Linked DNA regions of Homo sapiens. The protein of the gene in region 1 interacts with the protein of each later gene in a pairwise test. Each region holds a gene or a part of one and is shown on either strand. Other genes may lie near its edges.

What was found.
Region 2: the proteins of SIPA1L2 (region 1) and AP3M1 interact in binary tests that used the Homo sapiens proteins (3 or more experiments, as listed by UniProt).

The regions. Positions count from the first base shown.
Region 1 is NC_000001.11:232,625,531-232,636,898, reverse strand, and holds the start of SIPA1L2 (signal-induced proliferation-associated 1-like protein 2), read left to right. Parts: upstream 1-6,765; 5' UTR 6,766-7,030; intron 7,031-11,368.
Region 2 is NC_000010.11:74,118,510-74,129,208, forward strand, and holds the end of AP3M1 (AP-3 complex subunit mu-1), read right to left. Parts: coding exon 10,599-10,699; intron 7,847-10,598; coding exon 7,639-7,846; coding exon of another isoform or gene 7,617-7,638; intron 6,016-7,616; coding exon 5,871-6,015; intron 5,402-5,870; coding exon 5,301-5,401; 3' UTR 1,746-5,300; downstream 1-1,745. UniProt on the Homo sapiens protein: Part of the AP-3 complex, an adaptor-related complex which is not clathrin-associated. The complex is associated with the Golgi region as well as more peripheral structures.

The DNA.
Region 1 (11,368 bases):
ACTCCTACAATCTTAAAATAGAGTATGAGCTTGCTCTTTCCACATCAAAGCAGTTTCAAAGATTTAATTTTCAGATTTTGTGGGTAGGATTTACCTTTCTAACCCTTGGCCACTCTTCTCATGTTTCTCTCTGATTGCCTCCTCACACTGCTCCTTTGCTCCCCTTCCTTCCCATCTCTCTCCCTCAATTGCCTTCCCACTTAGGTCTCTCCCCAGGAAATCTCAAGTGCAGCTATTTCGCAGACAACCAGATGTTAGAACGAGGAAATGTGGCCTTGCTAATCCACCTGGGACCTGGAAAGCAGAAACTACATAGTCTTGATAGAGCATTTCAAATGTATCTCTATTTCTCCCTTATAACTCTTAATTTTTTAAAAACAAAAATCTGTCCCCTTATAGGATTTAAATATCATAAGCATTTTCCTGTCAGTGTTCTGACAGTTTTTCTTTATGAGACAGCAAACACATCCTCCAAAGTATTTAATACTGGGTGTCCAGTCCCTAGTTGTTAAATGAATAAATGAATGAACGAATGATGAAGGCAGGCAGAACAGTCTATCTGCTTTTTTTTATTTTCTCCATATTGCTTTCAACTTTTTCTAGATTATTTTTTCCCAGGGGGTGTGTTTTTCCATCAGCACTGCAGAAAGACCTGGAAGTAGTCACCAGGTTCTGTGAAATGTCTTACACATTGAGGCTGCTTAGAGTTTAATTAAGAACCTAAACTGTTCTTACATAAGACTGTTAAAATTAGGAAAGGAAGTGGTTTGCCAAATTATAGGCAGCCCTAGATACATAACCAATATTAAAAAGAAATCAAATGTAAAATGTAAATCTACATACATATATGTGTATGCTGTATATGCCTTTTCTGTACTGATTTCTTTAGATTTATTACTCGGCAGAGTATGTGTGGTGCTTTTGAGCATTACTATTGATAAACGCCATCTAGTGGTGTAGAATAGCAGATGCTCTATAGGTCAATTCAACTAACATGTCATTATTATTGTTATTTCATAAAAGTAGAACCAAAAACACTCGTTAAAGGATCCTGTCTGTCCCAAGTAGAAATAAAATTTGGAAGATCAAGACATAAACTTTAAATCTGCTATGGAAGAACAGAGAAAGATCAATACAGTACTTTCTCTCAGTGCAATCCATCCACCCACTCCCTATTCATTCATCAGATATCGATCAAGACCACGTCTTTTGCCAGGTTCTGTGTGAGGTGCTGGATATAAAGTTCCAGTCTCCTCCTTGAAGGACAGCAGCAAGTGGCAAACACTGATGACCTACTGTGTCTTCAGCTGTTTTCCTTCCTCCCTCCCTCTCTTCTTCCCTCCCTCTCTCCTTCTCTCCCTCTCCTTCCCTCCTCTTCTCCTTCCTTTCCTCTCTTTTCTTTTTCCTTCCCTCCCTTCTGTCCTCCCTCCCTCCTTCCTTCCTCCCTCCTTCCTCCCTCCCTCTCTCTCTCCCCCATCTCTTCCTCCTTTCCTCCTTCTTTCTTTCTTTTCTTTCCTTCCTTTCCTTCCTTCCCCTCTCCTTCCTTCCAAGTAAGGCAAGAGGCAGAAGACACCTCTCATAGTGATAAAGTTAGTACAAGTTGTTAACCTGTGGGTCTGAGACTAGAGAAAGTGAAAGAGATAACAAGGGGTATAAAATGTAAAATAGCTACGGCCAAGAGTTTGAATCATCAGAAAAGAAATAACCCACCTGTCTTAGAAGATTCTTGGAGATACATTAGATTGGACACATTGCAGCAAAGACAAACATTGGATTTTAAATTTCTGAAACATGCGATTAAGAACACAAGAAACTTTTCGCTTCTGAAGGATATTTGTCAGTGATCCTTAATCACGCAATCCAGGATTGGCCATTCCAGATCTCCATGTCACACATCTATACAACATTAAATTCAAGTTGGCATTTTAAATGTGTTGTCTTTGCAGTAATCTGAAAATTGCTTCCTCTGTGAAACTCCCAGCTAGGTAGTATTTTATTTCCTTGAGGATCGTCTCATTATTTATCTGTAATAATCCGCATCCCCCAGAGCAGAACTGAACACAGAGTAGGCCTCCGTAGATATCCACAGAACTGAGACTTTTATATTAGATGGGTTTCTTCTAAGGCTATTATGGACAGTATAGGGTACTTAGCACATCATTTATGTTGTCCTATTGGTTTTATGTTATTCTAGTGGTTTTCATTTTAAGATAAACATGTGCTTTGTTTTTTATCATGACTGGTAGTACACTAAAGCCAGTAACCCAGCTTTCTGAGCTGCAGCTGAACCATTTCTTTTAAAATTGCAGCAGAACTTTGTATTTCTTAATTTACCTCACAAGACCATATTCAAACATGTTTCTGTTGTAAGAGGTTTCCTTTAAAAAAAAAAAAAAAAGAAAGAAAAGAAAAGTTGAAGCAGCACCCATGTGCTTGTCTGTCTGTGAGGACTTCCCTTCTAAGAGGAAAACAGAACCTGACATGGATGAAGTGCCATGTAAGTGTTTGTTACACAAGTGAATAAGCCTGTGCTTGGCCAAAGGGCACCGCTGTTTCTCAAACATGCCTGACACAGGCAGCTCCTGTGTCTTCGCCCACAGTGCTTCCTCTTGCCAGGGGTAGAGTGCTCTCTTCTCTCCTTCTCGCCTGGCCAGTTTCACATCCTTGGTCAGGCCTTTGCTGGTTGGCCCAAGCCAGATGGCTGGCTCTCCTGCTCTCTCTGTGGGCGCCACTCATTGGTGATCACGAGCACCTGCTCTCAAGTTCTTCTCCTCATCATAAAATTCATATACTCTAATAAATATTGCCCTTTGGGTCCTTAGAGTCCAATATAATACCCTGAATGTAATATGCGTTCAACGCCTATTTGTTGCAAATTATACATCTTCATTTGACATAAAAGAAATACTTATTAAAAGATGGTTAGTAATAGAAAACGGAAGGAGGAAATAAGGATAGGAGTGTAAACCCTTATTTAACTTAGGTATTCAGGTTTATTACAGTGTACACATTTCATCTGTAGGTAGAATCTTGCTGCAGTGTGTCAAGAAAATAAAACTCCCGTTTTGCTAAATTCAAACGTAAATAGCTAGAAGTACCAGGCAAGGTCAGCCAAGAAGTGCAAAACCTTGGAACAGGGTAGACAGTTGGTATGTCTTTGAACTCCAGCTCTCTTTACACTTAGAGAAAAATAGGTAAGACTGATGTTGGAATTATTTCAGGCGTGGATGTGCTGGAAGAAAACTGTAAAAAGAATTAGGCCGGGCGCGGTGGCTCACGCCTGTAATCCCAGCACTTTGGGAGGCCGAGATGGGTGGATCACTTGAGGTCAGGAGTTCCAGACCAGCCTGGCCAACGTGTTGAAACCCCATGTCTACTAAAAATAGAAAAATTATCAGGGCTTGATGGTGCGTGCCTGTAATCCCAGCTACTTGGGAGGCTGAGGCAGGAGAATCACTGGCACCTGGGAGGCGGAGGTTGTAGTGAGGCAAGATCATGCCACCACACTCCAGCCTCGGTGACAAAGCGACTCCATCCCCTGCCAAAAAAAGAAAAAAGAAAAAAAAAAAAGAATTAATCCCTTTAGTTTGTTTCTTTGGGAACCCCTAGAACACGATGCAATTCACAGGAGAAAGAAGAATTTTGAGGGATAGAAAGTGAGGCTTGGGCAACAAGGGGAGGGAAAATCTTGGCCTGGGGGAAGGCGAAAGTGATAAGTTCACACTAGCCTTTAGGCAAATACAAGTTTATAATTCACCATTGATGTTTGTCTTCAAAATTTCAGCAAAATGTATAGCTTTAACATAGAATGATTTTCAGTAAGATGTCCTGAGGCAAAAAGGATGCAGTGATATCTTCATAGGTGCTGCAATTCCACCGTCTGTGCTAAGTTTCAGGCTGTTTGCCTAAAAAGGCAAGAAACAAGAAGGCTGCTGCTAGGAAGACCAGCAAGGAGGGACACACACATTAAATCTAATACTATTTCTGGAATATTTTATTTGGTGAAGAAGGTTCAGAATCATTCCTGAGATGTGTCTCTTGAGGATCTCTTGTGGTCGGCCGTGAGGTGGACACCTCGTGGGTTTTGCTCTCGCCTGTATGTATCACCATTGTTCTGCACAGCAAAGGGGCTCACTCAGGACCTGTTTGTTGAAAGCAGGAACATTCCGATGAAGGCCAGCCTCATGTGACGTGGAGTTCTGGGAAAGTAAGAAACTCCCACGGACCTTCATAAACGTACACAAATATTTACTCTGCACAATCAATTACAGGCATTAAAAAAAATACTGCCAACCTTGGTAGTGGGGCTTAGGATATTTCAATTTTAGTTTGGAAAGCACAAGAAGTGGGATGGGAAGGTGAGAGAGTGAGAATTGTGGCTAACACCGTCATCGAAGAGTGTCTGGTCAGACTTCCTTCCATATATGATCATTATGTACTGGATATTAAGGAACACATCAAAGGGATGGGTTCCTCTTCATCTATTAGACAGTGTACATTTGTAGCTGCAGCAGTTAAGACCCACCTCAATGACAACCCACTGACCAAGGATCTGCTCCGGATTGTAGTGGATTTGTGCCTTAGGGATCAAAATGCTGGAGGAGATGTGGTTCTTCTCCTCAAGGCCCTTATAGACAATGAAACACGCAATAAGGTGAAATGTGATCATGTCCTCCCTAGGCACTCCCAGGAAAAGTTCCTTCACGGCTGCTCCTCCTGCAGGGTTTTGTTGAGTACACAGGAGATAACATTGATACCTCTTGTAGAGTATCTACAACATATGAGGATACACCTGTGAGTTGGTGAGCTCTTGAAAAGCCGAGCCTTATGTCCTGTGCATTTTATATTCCCAGCACCTAGTATGGTCTGGAACATCAGAGGATCTCCATAAATCTGTTTTTTTTTTTTTTTTTTTGAGACGGAGTCTCACTCTGTCACCCAGGCTGGCGTGCAGTGGCATGATCCCGGCTCACTGCAAGCTCCACATCCCGGGTTCACACCATCCTCTTGCCTCAGCCACCCGAGTAGCTGGGACTACAGGTGCCTGCCACCACAGGCGCCTGCCACCACGCCCGGCTAATTTTTTGTATTTTTAGTAGAGACTGGGTTTCACCGTGTTAGCCAGGAAGATCCTGATCTCCTGACCTTGTGATCCTCCCGCCTCAGCCTCCCAAAGTGCTGGGATTACAGGCTTGAGCCACCGCGCCCGGCTTCATAAATGTTTGTTAAATGAATACATGACAATCTTGTAAATGCTGATAATGGGGTGACAATTGGGAAACTCATCAAAACCTGGAGTGCTCAGGAATTGTATTATGTCACAGGATTGCTTCTTGACCTGTTTAGTTATATCTAATCCCACAGATTATACCTATAATTTAAAAAGATACGAAAGATTGTATAATGTGTACATGCTTCAGATCACAGAGAAATATAGTGTGGGAAGGACCGCCTCTATTTACCTTTTAACAGGGCTGTGTTCTAGGAAGTGTTTGTGATAGGGAAGTAGAGATAACACTTTTTCTTCAGGAAGAAGTCTGACTCTAGAAGGGGAGAAACTGAAAGCCCCAATCCAGTCTCAGGGAACCCAGCTCAAAACTCTGACAAAAAAGCCTGCTCAGGAAATTCTACGGTGTGGCTGGAAGGTAAGTTAGAGGCTGCCTCCACCTGCTTTATTATTCCTGCGTATAGATGACTGTTGCTGTCCATTTAGGCAGAGTCAATTCCAGTCTAGCTTAAAAGATTCTTCTGAGACCCTTTAATCTTTCAGCATCTAATTCAAATGTCAAGCAATTTACAATAATAGTTTCAAATAATGCTTCCTCACAGGTGAGTCAACATTTCTAAGAAAGCAGAAAAGTTGGGTATAAAAAGTTCAATTCTTCCTCGTCGGAAAAAAGATGCAAGACATTTCTACCGTGGGCTGAGCGCTGCCTGGAGGGCAGGGAGGAAGGGGTGAGCGGACCGCGCTGGGATGTGGGTGCCTGGAACTGCCAATCTCTCCGTTTTCCCCTTGGCTCCTAAAGGTCTCTTAGCAGCATTTCCTGCACGCTGGCACCCCCTGTCCTCCTAACGTTTTACTGCCTGCGTGTTTCTCTGTGCTTCCCCACCCTCCGACCCACAGGGCCCGGGGCGCCCTCCGGGGGCCGGCACACAGCAGGGTCTCGCTTCCTCGCGCTGTCTTCTTCAGATGGGATCACTTCGACTTGCGGCCGTTTGGGCGTTCGCGGGGCCTCGGCGATTCTGTGGCGTCCTGGGCTGTGTATGTAGCCCCAGCGGCCGAGGCTCACGGATCCGACCGCCCGGCCGCCGCGTCTGTCCCAAGTTGGGAGACGGGAGGGCCGGGTGGGGTCGCGCCTGCGCCAGGGGGCGGCTCAGAACCAGACTCGCGGTTTTTAACTTATTCCTCAGAGGGGCGAAAGCGAGTCTCGACAAGGACGGCGACGGCTCTCTAGAAGCCGGGGTCCAGGTAGGCTGCCCGGCCCTCGAGCTCGCCCAGCGCCGCTCATGATGCGCCCCGCAGCCCCCTCCCCAAGAAGGGCGTCCGGGCCCCTCCTGGACGCGCAGCTCCCGCGCGCCGCGGGGCCTGGGAACAGCGCACCGGCTGCGCCCGGAGCCGGGCGGACGGTGAGACTGACGGCGTCCGCGCCCAATCGTGGGGCGGGGCCGAGGGGGCCTGCAGGCAGCGACCAATGGGAGCCCGCAGAGCGGGCGGGGGGCGGTGCCGCTGGGCGGGCGGGCGGTGGCATCGGGAGCCGGCGCGGCAGACTGGGAGCCCGGGAGGAGCTGGCGGAGCGAGAGGAGGAGGAGGACGGAGGAGGAGCACCGCGCCCCCGCCGGCCGCCCGAGCGCAGGCCGAGAGCTCCAGCCGCAGCCAGCGGGTCCGGGCCGCCTCCGCCGGAGCCCGGCGCGGGGAGAGTCCGGGCCGATGGGCAGCCCCGGGCAGCGGCGGGCGGCGAGGCGGCAGCCCGGGTACGCGCCGCCCGGCGCGCACAGGCTGTAGCAGGTTCCGGCGGACGGCGTTGCGAAGGTTCGTGTCGGGGAATCCGACGGGCAGCGTGGCGAGGGTCGGTTCGGGATGCCTGCGGCCAGGCGGGGACTGTCCCGAAGGGGAAGGGGATGCCCTTCGGGGCGCTTTGGGGGGCTGACGGCGGCGAGGGGTGCGAGGGGCGCGGGGGTGCGAGGGTCGCGGCGCAGGGTCCGGCTTGTAGACGCAGATGCGCCCGCGCTCCCGATCCCCGGCTGGAAGAGGAGCCGCCGCCGCCTGTTCTCTCCAAGTTATCGATCGGCTGAAAGGTTATTCCCGTCTCGGCGACACAGGCACTGAGGAGGGTCTTCTCCAGGTGCCCAGAACTTCGCTCTGACTAACGCTCTCTGGAAGGGCTCGCGGTTGCCCGACGCAGCTTCCCCGGCGCGCCTGGCCAGCTGACGCCGAACTTGCTGCGGGGCTAATTCCCCTTCTAGAGGGGGTGCGCCCGGAGCGCGCGCCCTCACCGGGACGGATCCCTCTTTGTAAGACCGGGAGCCTCCGGCGAGCGCTCTTCTCACTCACCGCGACCTTTCTTCCCACTTTGCCAGCTCCTGGGCCTCTCCGGGTCTTCCCGTGTCAGTGAGGGTAGTTTGCCCACGTCCTGGGAATATCCCTGGGAACACCTACAGATTAATTTTCAGCCGTGCCGCAAACCCAAAGAATCAATTTCGGCTCATCATCTGCAAGAGAGAGCCGAGGCTTCTCGGAAAGAGAGAACAACTTGGCATTACCCCTGTGGGAGATATTTGTCATCATTAACCTGCTTGAGTTAAATTAATTCAGCCCAAGATGACTCTGGCCTGAGTATTGGAAAAAATCAAGTGCATTGGTTACGGAATTGTGCTCACCAAAACATGATTTTGGTCAAAACAAAATTGTAGACATTTTGGATTTTGGTTAGATTGAGACTGGGTTTTGACAAGGATGGCTTTTTTTTAAAAAAAACAAGGAAAAAAACCCTCAAAGAATCTTGGTGATTCTCATGTCTTTGCCCAGTAAGTTCAAAATAGTCGCACAGATTTTTCTTTTCTTTGCCTCTTTTGTCTGCAGTCTCCATTCTAAACGTTAACACTAGATGGCTTTCTTATGACAGACATTTAGTAAACTGCCCATTTGAGTCGCGTTTGTGTGCAGCCTAGGTTGTAATTTTTCTAGTGTTACAATTAGTAATTGAAGAAAAAAGATCTCCCAAACTGTTGCTTTTTATTGCTTTCCTAGAAAACCTACACATACCGATATTTTTGCGGATATTGAGAGGTGGCCTATTATTTTTGGCATTCCCAAAGTTGAATTTCAAGAGACAACTTGGTTACTGTATTTAGTTACATCATTTAAGAATGCTTGTTTCATGTTTGGACTTATTTAAAGAATTCAGAGTTCTGTTAGTTTTGTCATTCTGTTTAGACAATATTTCCAGTTAAAAGATGTTTACCGCTTGATTGAATTTCACTGCTTGATTCAGAGTTATAAGAGAGTATTATTCATGAGAAAAATGCAGTCTTTCTTAAGTTTTGGGTATAAATCACATTGATTCTTCCTAAAAGATTCCATTGATCCATTTTGGGAAGAGATGCAGTTAAAGTATCTGCATGATTCATACCAGGGATTGTGTTAGGGACATCTCCCCAGAGGATGTTTGATTTTTTCATTTCTAAGCACAAGCCCTTTTATGACAAGCACAATAGCCCGTAGTTTCAGCAGTAACAGCAGCAGCAGCAGCAGCAGGCTCCCAGTTATGTTTTTAAGCACTTTTATTCTAAAGCAAGATCACGGCAGCCTGTCCAAATCTTGCCTAGGTAGGCAAACTTATTTATACGCTGAGTAAATATCTTGAAATTATCTTTGTAGCTATCATTTATTGTGTGCCTTGCCCAGCTTAAAATAAGACATACTGAATTTGTTCTAAATTAGAGTGTATTCATAAATAGCTGAAGGAAAAAGAAGAAAAACTACAGAGCAAACATCTGGGAAGTAGGAAATGAAATCAGAAACAGCTTTTATCAGTACCCACATTCTACCTATAGATGGGGTGAAATGAACCTGGATAAGAAGCAGTGTAAGCACTTGATCCGGAAAAGCAAGAGCTAGATCACAGGTATGGGGGTGGAGCTTCTGGCTTTTAGTATGGGCCACAGATTTTACCCAGTTGCTTTAAGTATATGTTTTTCATTAGATGCTTTTTATGTTTTGAAATCATAGATTTTCTCAAAGAGCTTTAATTGTATGGAATGTAACTTTTAGTCTAATAAGGGAATTATCAGATCATGATTTGGCTTCTATGATGCTTACTGTAGTTAAAGCTGTGTAATATGGATTTGGAAGGTGTTTTTTTTTTTCTCCCCCTCACCCCGCAAGACTGGGATGGTGTTTTGAAGGGTTCCTTGATACCTGAGCTTAGTAAACACTTGTCCACCTTGGGGATCTTTTTACCTGAGGCAAAGGAGAAGCGGGTTATTATTTTGAAATTAGCAGTCTATTTCTGAAAGTAAGGAAATACTAGCTACCCTGAAAAACCAGTTGTTTGGTAATTGAAACTGGTTTAAAAGCACTGTGTTTGGGCATCGAAACTAGTTTAAAGGGATTGTGTTTCCTGCATACTTTGCAAAGAACTATGTGTTTATGTGGATACAGCCCCTTGCCCCCAACCATAATTGGTAAATGCAGCGTTATTTTTTGAGATTGAGGAAGGCATTGAGTTTTTGAACTTCTGATCAATTTATGGTGGTAGTTGAGGATTACAAATCCTTTTAAAGACACACTGAATTTGAAGAAAATTTAGACTAGGGTATTGTTAATTGAAAAGCTGCTTTTTTTTTTCTTTCTGTTTTGAACTTCAATGAAATACAAAGTACAGTCCTAGAGAATAGTGAACCATGTTCTAGGTTTTCTACTTCTGTTAATGTGCCTAATTCATTTGCAGAGTGAGAGTAGAAAAAGCTTTAGGCACAGACAGGAACCTTGAGCTTCCTGCCTCTACCACCTGTCACAAATGAATTTGGATGAAACTATTTTCATGATCCCTTTCAGCACCAAAATTTGGGGTTTCTTTAAGGTTTAAGACGAACGCATTAGAGTAATGAAAATGCCTGTCTGACTGGGATGTTTATATTTTTCATGATTATGTCATTTCTTTGCCTTGGCCTATAGTAAGTTTGTATGTGAATGCTTTGCATGAGGGTCATAGCTACTTGGTTTACCTTGAAATCAATGATTCAGAAATTGCTTTTTGTGTTCCAGTTGCATGTAGCTGTGACTCCTTTTAAAAGTGTGGTAACAATGTGGTAGGAATTTAAAAGCTTCCCAACTTTAGACATAGATTATTTTGATCCTTTCTGAACTGGATTCATAAACTTTGGTTCCAAAGAACAGCAGCTGTAGAAGGGAGCCAGATCTTGACTCACTGTTGAGGTTCTGCTTCTTGAGAGATTTCATATTTAGTGCAACCCAATTCCTTGGTTCGTTCTTCTCCCCCAGTACTAGATAGCCAAGTTGGGTGGTAGGAAGGAAGAAAATATGCAGCAAGTCGAGTCTAGTTGTCATGCTCCTTTGGGCCAGAAAGGACCTTAAAGATTGTCTCGTCATGTTGTTCCTATACCTTTTGTTTTCGTCTACCTGTAAAATGAAAAAAAAAAAAAAAAGCAAATATTAGGGATTGTCAGATATGTCAGCATTTAATGTTGCTACATAAGTGTGTTTAAAATTGACAACAGCAGTTACTACCTATTGTCAATGCATTTCGTCAAAATCCTTTTGATGTACCAAAAAAGAGAAAAGGTGGGGAAAGGGGGAAGAATATGTATGCTGTCAGACTTAAAGGAGAGTTCTTCCTATCCAGAGAGGAGCTGTGTTAAAATTACCCCACTCGTGGATTTATATCTATCCCCACACAGACACTTTTTTCTTTTGCATGGGTCAATGAAAAATTCACTAAGGACCGGGGTTTAGAAATCACTGAGTAGCTCAACTAACCCTTCTTTGATATTTGGATCCTTTTATATAATCTCTGTAAGTGGTCTTCCGGTAATACCTGAACATTGCAAGTAACGGGTGGTGATTTCCACCTTTTAATGGTTTTGAGTACTAGAAAGTTTTTTGGCCTATAGAATTGAAATCTGATTCTGCTTGTTTATTCAAATTCTACTGCCTTGGTGGCCTACAGAACAAATCCTTCAGTCTCTGTCAGAGTTGGGCTCTTGGTGTAACGTGACCCGTGAACATGACCTGTGTAGAGTACAGCAGGAGTGTCTTGTCATAGGTTGCATGTTGCTTGCACTGATGTAGTCCAAGTTTGCATTTACTTTTCTGGTGGCCAGACTCAACGAGTTTCCTTTTCGCTAA
Region 2 (10,699 bases), on another chromosome or scaffold:
GGGGACACTTCCCTCTGTTTCTCTTTCCTTGGCTCCCATTCACTCTTCCAGAATCCCAAGACCCAGGGCCCAGGCAAATCAGTTACTAAGAAGAAAATTGCTGTGCCTCCCAAAATTGTTTTGAGCTTTCCATGTTGCTGCCAACCATACCTTCCTTCCCTGGGCTGTGCTACCTGGGTCCTTTTCAGAAGTGAGCTTTGCTGCTACAGGGGAAGGTGGCCTCTGTGGAGCCCCAGCATATGGGGGCCTGGATTCATTTCCTGCCCTTCCTCAGTTTAATCCTTCTAGTTTCCCACAATATAAAACTGTACTTCACTGTCAGGAAGAAATCACAGAATCATATGATTCTGCTTTTACCATGCCCCTGAGCAATGTCTGTGCTAGGGAAACTTCCCGTCCCATATCCTGCCTCAGCCCGCCAAGGTAGCCATCCCATGAACACACTGTGTCCTGGTGCTCTCTGCCACTGGAAGGGCAGAGTAGCCAGGGTGTGGCCCTGCCATCTTCCCAGCAGGGCCACTCCCGGCACTCCATGCTTAGTCACTGCCTGCAGAGGTCTGTGCTGAGGCCTTATCATTCATTCTTAGCTCTTAATTGTTCATTTTGAGCTGAAATGCTGCATTTTAATTTTAACCAAAACATGTCTCCTATCCTGGTTTTTGTAGCCTTCCTCCACATCCTTTCTAAACAAGATTTTAAAGACATGTAGGTGTTTGTTCATCTGTAACTCTAAAAGATCCTTTTTAAATTCAGTCCTAAGAAAGAGGAGTGCTTGTCCCCTAAGAGTGTTTAATGGCAAGGCAGCCCTGTCTGAAGGACACTTCCTGCCTAAGGGAGAGTGGTATTTGCAGACTAGAATTCTAGTGCTGCTGAAGATGAATCAATGGGAAATACTACTCCTGTAATTCCTACCTCCCTGCAACCAACTACAACCAAGCTCTCTGCATCTACTCCCAAGTATGGGGTTCAAGAGAGTAATGGGTTTCATATTTCTTATCACCACAGTAAGTTCCTACTAGGCAAAATGAGAGGGCAGTGTTTCCTTTTTGGTACTTATTACTGCTAAGTATTTCCCAGCACATGAAACCTTATTTTTTCCCAAAGCCAGAACCAGATGAGTAAAGGAGTAAGAACCTTGCCTGAACATCCTTCCTTCCCACCCATCGCTGTGTGTTAGTTCCCAACATCGAATGTGTACAACTTAAGTTGGTCCTTTACACTCAGGCTTTCACTATTTCCTTTATAATGAGGATGATTATTTTCAAGGCCCTCAGCATATTTGTATAGTTGCTTGCCTGATATAAATGCAATATTAATGCCTTTAAAGTATGAATCTATGCCAAAGATCACTTGTTGTTTTACTAAAGAAAGATTACTTAGAGGAAATAAGAAAAATCATGTTTGCTCTCCCGGTTCTTCCAGTGGTTTGAGACACTGGTTTACACTTTATGCCGGATGTGCTTTTCTCCAATATCAGTGCTCGAGACACAGTGAAGCAAATTAAAAAAAAAAAAAAAAAAAATCCCTGAATGATGATTAGAGACATCACCGCTAAAAAACTACATTTATAAGCTAGGATTTGTTATATGCAAATATTTTCTGCCTCTTCTTTTGTTCTGTTTAAAACAATAAAATGCATTTGTATAAAAAATGCTTTAAATGATGGATATGTTACTTTAGCAAGAACTTTTAGGTCAGGTTTCTCCTTTGTTTTGATGAATAGTCAATGAAACTAATCCTCAAGATCTGGAAACTAAAGATTTTTATTTAATCCAAATGTTGCACTGGAAGAAGAAATCAACAGTGGTATATTTACTTAACAAGGATGTGTGTAATACAAGACAACCCTGGGGATTACACACTTGAAGGAATGGAAGTGGCAAAGGTTAACAGGCAGAAAGCAGCTGGATGAAACAGTTTATTTTCATCTTAGAAGATTCTAGCTATCTGTGGAGACCACCACTGTTCCCCGAAAAGCTAAAGTTGTTAAGTTTGTAGGAGTACCACAGGTCCTTCCCCCTGCTGCAAGACAGAGACTTGCTCTGTTGCCCAGGCTGCAGTGCAGTGGTGCAATCTCAGCTCACTGCAACCTCTGCCTCCCGGGTTCAAGCAATTCTCCTGCCTCAGCCTCCCATGTAGCTGGGATTACAGGTGTGCGCCACCATGCCTGGCTAATTTTTGTATTTTTAGTAGAGATGGAGTTTCACCATGTTGGCCAGGCTGGTCTCGAACTCCTGACCTCAAGTGATCCGCCCACCTTGACCTCCCAAAGTGCTGGGATTACAGGTGTGATCCACCACGCCCGGCCACACAGGTCCATTTTTCATATTCCAAAGCCCAGTATAGAATAAATAGGGTTTTCAGGGATCCACCAGGGCTATAAAACAGAGTTAGCTTTTGGGGACATAGTCCTCTTCTTCCTTAAAGAAACACTGACTAAAATAGTAGGAGCAGGTTTTTAGAGTAGAGTTGGGACATCACTTTTTCCCTGATTTTCTAGATCTGAAAGGGGTAACATGTCATTAAAGGGTGATGATATTGATATTTAGTGTTGCCAACTGCTATTATCACTGCTTTATCTTGGAAAGTTGCCGACTATAAAGACAGATTCCAGCCTGCTTGAGTTAAGGGAAAGGCCAAGGCTGCTACTGAATTAGCAGTTTCTAAAACTGTCTTGTTTTTGCCATTTACCATATGTTCACTGGTGCTGCCTTCCTGCTGTAGTATAATCATTTTCTCAAATCAGTTGCCTCTCAGGACAAGATCAGCATTTTCCTAGGGTCCTTCTGTAGCACCACTTAAGGAATGAACCTATCACAGGAACTCCCTTTGAATAAAATGATGGTGACTCCCACACGCAGGAAAGAATCATTTACTTCATTTGCTCTTGATATACTCCCTTATGAATTTAGAACAAGTGATCCAGGATTAGCTGTAACTCTGTGCTTGAAAAATATTTTACTACTACTAAGTATTCAGAAATCTTTGTTATCAGTAGGTGGTGGTAGTGATAGGGAAGGGAGCTTTGATCACTAATCTCTCAGACTGTGGCCAGAATGGTGATGCTTAAGCCAAGTATGAATGGCTATTAACATACTGAGGTTAGGGAAGGAGTACTGAGAAGTGCTTTGCAGCAACACTCGCAGCTTGTGTGATGATGCAGAAGAAAATCTGATCATGTTCACCCTGCTTTGACAATGAGCCTTGCCCATTGGAGAATGTTCAATCAATAGTAGACCTAAAAAAAATCAACTTGTTGCTTTCATCTTTTTATTGATAGCACAGCCAGAGCTACCAAAATGATTTACTGGATTCTAGCAAATTAATAAATACAGTAATTTGATTGTAAAAGGAAACATTCTACTTGGACATTTTAGTAGAAATTGCTAGAGGGAAGGAGCTCCTGGCGTACATTCTACTTGGATAGAAGAGAAGATAGCACAGGAGGAGAACTGGACAGTCCAGGTATAGATTGTTGAGATTAGGGATTCAGCAGAAAGCAAAGCAAATGTTCTCATTGTTCTTTTGAGGTACGAACTCTGAAGAGTCAAGACATTAAAAATAAAAAGCAATTGAACCGGGTAGCCAAACTTAGGCAAAAGGAATAAATATTTGGCAACATTTTGACTTTAACTGCCAATCTGAGATTAGTTTCTTCAGAAATTTGGAAGCTGCAAAACGTTGCCTTTCTTATTCCATGAAAGGCAGGGCAGGCAAAGGTAAGAAAACTGCTGAGTGGGCTCCTTGTACCAGCACCAACCAGCAGCCCTTGACAGCATAGATGGGATGAGTGTAAGGGCTATCCTTAGCATAAGGGAAAGACGGTTATAAGCTGAGAAGATTGAAAGAAGAATGGAGCCACAAAGAGAATAGCATAAATAACAAGAAGGAAACATGAAGAACAAGCACTTAAGATATTAACTTTCAGTCTTTCTCCATTTCTTGATGTCTAATGAGGCAAAATAACTGGGCAAGGACCACCAAGATGAAGAAGTTAAATAAAATGTCACAATGAAATTGAGTGCAATAATACAACTGTTGACTGACTTTCCAAAACCACGGTGATCGGTAGAGTATCATCAATGTTACCGAGGATTTTGTTTCTGCCTCATTATAACTCACTTCCATGTATTTTGTCAGTATAGTACGTATATTTAAGCACTCCAGTGACAATTATGACAATAGTTTCTGGAAGAAATCTATGACTATAGCTTTGGGAAGCACACAATATGAAAAGGGAATTTCCCCTAAAGACAAGGAATGCAGACAAATTCAAACCCTTAAGAACAACAACAAAAAAGATTTAAAAAGACTGATGACTGTGAGGCAGGCACATTTTCCTCCTTTTGCTGAACTGGGGCATGAGGCATTTAGGTTAACCATGGCTTAACTGGTGTTGGGTAAGCTTTATATTATAAAACATGAAGATGGCAAAGGTTTCACTTAAGTTTTTCTTTTACTACTTTAATTTGCTTAAAAGCACAAATGCTTGTGCTTGCAGTAACTTCCTAAAAGCAGAAGTAATGTTCCCTTTTACTACCTTAATAAAGCATTTGCCCCTTTGATACAAATGATTTTTTTACTGTGCTAACAGCTGAACCAGTGGCACAAAATTGAGATGGTATTTACTGCAGCAAGGTCCCTGTAAATCAAATTCTAAGCTTTACATAAAAATCTTATTTATAAAAAATACAATACCAAGTACAGTGAGAATGGAGCATGGAGCAGCAGTGCTCCCTGCCAGGGCCATGTGGAAGTGGCTTTTGCTACAGTGCTTGCTTAATGGCACAAGTGAAAAGCTGAATAAGGCAAACACTTGAAGAGGCAGTTTTCTGTAAACTTCTGGGGGTGGGGGGAATTTCCTCTCGGGACAGATACTGGTTTGGGATGGCTAAGATCAGAAGGTGTGATATTTGGCTGCACCTGACACATCACAGATTTAAGATAGCTTCTGCTGGATGAGACCAGTTAACTCTTTTAGGAGAGAGGTTATCACTACAGCTTTCTGCCTTTACTGTTACAATGTGCAGCCGCCAGATGGTATCCTCCTATGGAAAAAAATCACCTCCAAAATCTTCCTAAGTGAAAAGATACAAAATAAGCTAAGTCACTAAAAGGTTTCCTTAGCTTAAAGCTCCTTAAGAATCCTACATTGATAACTAAGTAACTTTGTTAGCGGTGTGTAGCTAGACACAAATGCTTTAACTAGAATATGTATTCCCACTCACTTGGTACCTAATAGTGATACATCGTAATGACACTTGGAAAACAAACTGGTCCTGAGGAATTTTGGCCTCTTCTCATGTCCTCACTTGGAACTTTCCAGCTTTCGTGACGTATTTGACTCCTTTAAATGGCTTATATTTCTCCCCATACATGTCCAAACGGTTTACTTTTAAGCCTGTATCAAAAAGAATGAAAAAGAATAAATTATCATCATCCCAACCAATATAATGTTAGCAATGAGCGCTATATGGTAAATCTGACATTAACCAGTGTCCCTTCCACCATTTGGAAGAAATGTCTCTTCTATCATTTACAAATTATTGCACTTTGATGGTATGGTTTTGGTTAAGATTCCCACACAGGCAGGGAATGTCTGTGAAGTATAATTCTACTTTCTGTGAATATGAATAACTCTCTTTTTGGTGCTTAAATGAGGGCGGAGGTGAGGGGAAGCTGTTTGAAATAAGGTGCTCTGAAAAATCATTTGGTCGGTGCCTGTGAGACTGCCCCACCAAGCACAGTATAAAAGGCAAATGGGCTACTGCTCTTTCTAGAGAAGGAAACTTTTGTTACTCTTCTAAATGCCTAATAAATGAGCTTGCAAAACTCAATTACCCTTAACTACAAGTCAACCTTATCCTTACCTGAAATAGCAAGCTGCTGGATCTTAAACTGTATGTTGAGGCTCGGATTCTCTTCTGGTTTGGGGGCTCCAGACTGTAAATTTACCAGTCCTTTAAGACTTGGGAGCTTTTGTGGAGTAATTTTTCCCACATCCCATGTTAGTACCTTAAAAAGACAAAAAATGAAAAACAAATAGAACCATTTATTAAAGACAAACCCTCAAAAACAAAGTTCAAAGATATCATAAACTTCTGTACAAACTGAAGTGCAGTCTCTTGAAAACAAGAGATCTGGCATCTACAGTGAGTTTACCTCTGATTAATTCTGTGACTTTGAATGGGGAGTGAGAGCAGAGAATCTACATTTGTTGAGCATTTTCTTTTGTATTAGCACCGTGCTTAGCATTATTCATATGTTGTCTCATTGAGGGCTGTGAAGTAGCTTTTGTCTTCTATTTACAAATGAGGAAATTAAAGCTCAGAGGACATTAAGGCTCAGAGATCAAATGACTCGCTCAAGGTCACATAGTTAGTCAGAGGTAAGGCTGGGATTTGAACCTAAGGCCCTCTGATTTCAAATGTTCTCCATCATAACCATCTTCACTTTTCTCTGGGCCTGTTTCTTTTTCTTTTTTTTTTGAGACAGAGTTTCACTCTTGTTGCCTAGGATGGAGTGCAATGGTGCAATCTTGGCTCACCACAAACTCTGCCTCCCAGGTTCAAGCGATGCTCCTGCCTCAGCCTCCCAAGCAGCTGGGATACAGGCATGCGCCACCATGCCCAGCTAATTTTGTAGTTTTAGTAGAGATGGGGTTTCTCCATGTTGGTCAGGCTGGTCTCGAACTCCTGACCTCAGGTGATCCACCCACCTCGGCCTCCCAAAGTGCTGGGATTACAGGCGTAAGCCACTGCGCCCAGCCTCTGTTTATTTTTCTGTAAAATAATTAGATTGACTTAAGATGGTGTTTTTAAAACTTTTAGCTGTGAAACCCATTGTTCAAATGAAATCTTCGGTGTGAAGGCTCAACAGCAGATGAGAAAGAAAGCAAAGCTGTCATAGTTGAAGCTGTGGTAAAGGGCCAGGAATCTGAAGCTCCCTTTCTCAGCCCTGTGTGGTCTCCAGGAGGAGGTTCTTTGAATCCTTACAACTGTATTAAATAATCTTTAACATTCTATGATGTTATTCAAAAAACATGTCTTTTCATTTATCAGGTAGCTCAATGACTCTGCTATTGAAAACAATCATATTTACCAGCTAATCAGGAAGCTGAGAGAAAATCATCTGCTACAGTTTCTCTGAAAACCCTCTGTTACACAAAAATTTAAGTAGAGTGAGGAAGCAACTTTCCTAGCCCTGTGAAAGAGTATGAAATAATGCTTTTAAATTATAAAGGAAGAAAAAGGTCTTAGTGATCAATTTATATAGAAAACTTAGTAATTCATAGACCATCATAATATCTTCTTCAATCTACATAATGTTTTCTCTTTTTAAAAAAGCTTTTACTTCTTTCTTATTAGATAGCAGAGTCAGGCTCTGGATTAATAATGGATGAGTGAAGGCACACTCTGAAAAAGGACAGAATGACACATTTTTCTGTTCATCTACTCAGTAGCAGCTGCAGGATTCCTTCTGCAGCCAGTGGCAGAAGCACAGCACAGTATGCTCTCTAGGTTTTGATACGAACTTTAGTTTTAAACAAGGTGCCAAACCTTTCCCTCCATTCCTCCCCACAAATCACAAAATAGATTGCAGAAACACTTGCTCACTCTTGATTTGAAGTGGCTGTACCTTGGTGACTGGATCAAATGTATAGCTGCCTTGTGTGGGTGTCAGGTTCATGTTCAGCACAACTTTTGGCATGTGAACTGTCACTGTAATTCCTTCAATAGTTTTCCCCATATTCTGCTTTGGTCCAATTGTTATATCAAATCTGCCGCAAGAACTGTTCTCCTTAAAGCTGATACTATGTTTCACATACACTGGTATTGCCACTAGACTAAAAAGAGAAACAGAGAAAGATACAAAAGCACAAACACAATTAATGGTGTGGGGAGAGCTCCAGAGGTATCCTGAAAACCTCTGTCCAGAGTATCCTACCCTGCCTTTAACTCCACAATAAGGTACTACAGAGTTGGCTCTCTGTAGCCACAGTTCTGCATCCTTGAATTTGACCAGCTGAGGATTGAAAATATTATTTCACAAAATTGGCCAGGCGTGGTGGCTCATGCCTGTAATCCCAGCACTTTGGGAGGCCGAGACCAGGGTTGGGAGGGGATCACCTGAGGTCAGGAGTTTGAGACCAGCCTGGCCAACATGATGAAACCTCGTCTCTACAAAAATTAGCTAGGGCTGGGCGCGGTGGCTCACACCTGTAATCTCAGTACTTTGGGAGGCTGAGGTGAGGAGTTCAAGACCAGCCTGGCCAACATGGTGAAACCTCGTCTCTACTAAAAATACAAAAATTAGCTGGGTGTGGTGGCTCATGCCTGTAGTCCCAGCTATTTGGAAGCCTGAGGCAGGAGAATCGCTTGAACCTGGGAAGCGGAGATTGCAGTGAGCTGAGATCGTGCCACTGCACTCCAGCCTGGGCAAAGGAGCGAGACGCCATCTCAAAAAAAAAAAAAAAAAAAAAAAAAAAAAAAGTAAAAAATAACAATATAACTACAATAAAAATAAAAAGTCAACATGGTATAACAATTATTTACACAGTGTTTACAGTGTACTATCACAAGTAACTTGGAGATGATTTAAAGTATACAGGAGGATGTGCATAGGTTATATGCAAATACTACACCATTTTATGTAAGGGACTCGAGCATCTGCTGATTTTTGCAACCAGTCCTCCAAGGATACCAAGATGGCAGTACCTCTAGAACTGCAGATTCAGTATCTACACAAGGGGGAGCTGAGTACAGCATAATGTTCTTGTACCACTGTGCTGGGAACTGTATACAAATCAAGACAGAAATCTGAAGTTTAATAACAGTATAAACAATTGGGGTGGCTGGGTGCAGTGGCTCACACCTGTAATCCCAGCACTTTGGGAGGCCAAGGCAGGCAGATCACTGGAGGTCAGGAGTTTGAGACCAGCCTGGCCAACATGGTGAAATCCCCTCTCTAATAAAAAAAAAAAATAACAAAAAACAAAAATTAGCTGGGCGCGGTGGCAGGTGCCTGTAATCCCAGCTACTTGGGAGGCTGAGGCAGGAGAATCGCTTGAACCCAGGAGGTAGAGGTTGCAGTGAGCCAAGATCACACCATTGCACTCCAGCCTGGGTGACAATAGTGAAACTCCGTCTCAAAACAAACAAACAAAACAAAATAACATAAAACAAACAAACAAAAACAATTGGGGCAAATGGCCCTAGTTTAAAATGAATTATGATCCCACTGAAAAATAATGTAAAATATGTTTTATATAAATGAAAACAGTTCCTATGTGATAAGAGCCAAGAAACAGGCCAGGCACGGTGGCTCACGCCTGTAATCCCAGCACTTTGGGAGGCTGAGGTGGGCAGATCACCTGAGGTCTGGAGTTCGAGACCAGTCTGACCAACATGGAATAACCCCGCCTCTACTAAAAACACAAAATTAGCCGGGTGTGGTGGTGCATGCCTGTAATCCCAGCTACTTGGGAGGCCGAGGCAGGAGAATCACTTGAACCCTGGAGGTGGAGGTTGCAGTAAGCCGAGATTTCACCATTGCACTCCAGCCTGAGCAACAAGAGCCAAACTCCGGCTTAAAAAAAAAAAAAAAAAAAAAAAAGGAAAAGAAAAGAGCCGAGAAATAATTTCTCTGTTTTTGAGTTCTGTCATGATGTTACTCAAATAACTTTTGGTATTTTCAAGAAACAAACTACCTATAACTCCGATCCCCAATGCTAAATTTTTTTTTTTTTTGAGATGGAGTTTTACCCTGTTGGCCAGGCTGTAGTGCAGTGGTGTGATCTGTCACTGCAACCTCTGCCTTCCAGGTTCAAGTGATTCTCATGCCTCAGCCTCCTAAGTAGTTGAGATTATATAGGCACACGCTACCACGCCTGGCTAATTTTGTGTTTTTAGTAGAGACAGGGTTTCACCATGTTGACCAGACTGGTCTAGAACTCTTGACCCCAAGTGATCTGCCCACATTGGCCTCCCAAAGTGTTGGGATTACAGGAGTGAACCACTGCACCCGGCCCCTCAATGCTAAACAGTTCCTTAAAAACTCAACGCAGAGAAGACGTACTTGAAGCAGGTAAATTGGGGAATGTCCTCACGAACTACAGGTAGGTCTGTCTCCTTGTTGGCCACAAACTCTACAGACTATGGTAAGATTATGGCAATGGTTCATGGTTTTGCCCAGGTTATGCATGGTCCGTTTTGCTCTGCTTGCAAAGTACTCAGCTTTCAGAAGCAGAGCAAAATGGACCATGCATAACCTGAGCAAAGAACCAGTGCCATAATTTGACCATGCATAACCTTGCAAAGGACCGGTACCACAATTTTTGCCCAGGTTATGTATGGTTTGCTTGTTCTTGGCTATAGATTTTACTCTAGTCTCACTTAGTACCACTCTACACTCATACATTCAAAGTATACGGATTATTTTAGGTGCGTATTTTCACCCGTTCTCACTGGGTCTCCTGGTGAGCTATGGTTAAAGTGAGCAGTGATGACCTCAAGTACTCAACTTTCAGAAAGAAACAGGGAAAGGTGAGTTGTACTTGATATGTATGATGGCAGATTCTGGCTGATGCATCAACATACTTTTGTGAGCTGACACGGTATGATATGAGTCGGAAATTTCCATCTGGAGGAATAAATGACAAAACTCTTTCAGATTCCCAACGCTTGAACCGGATGCAGGG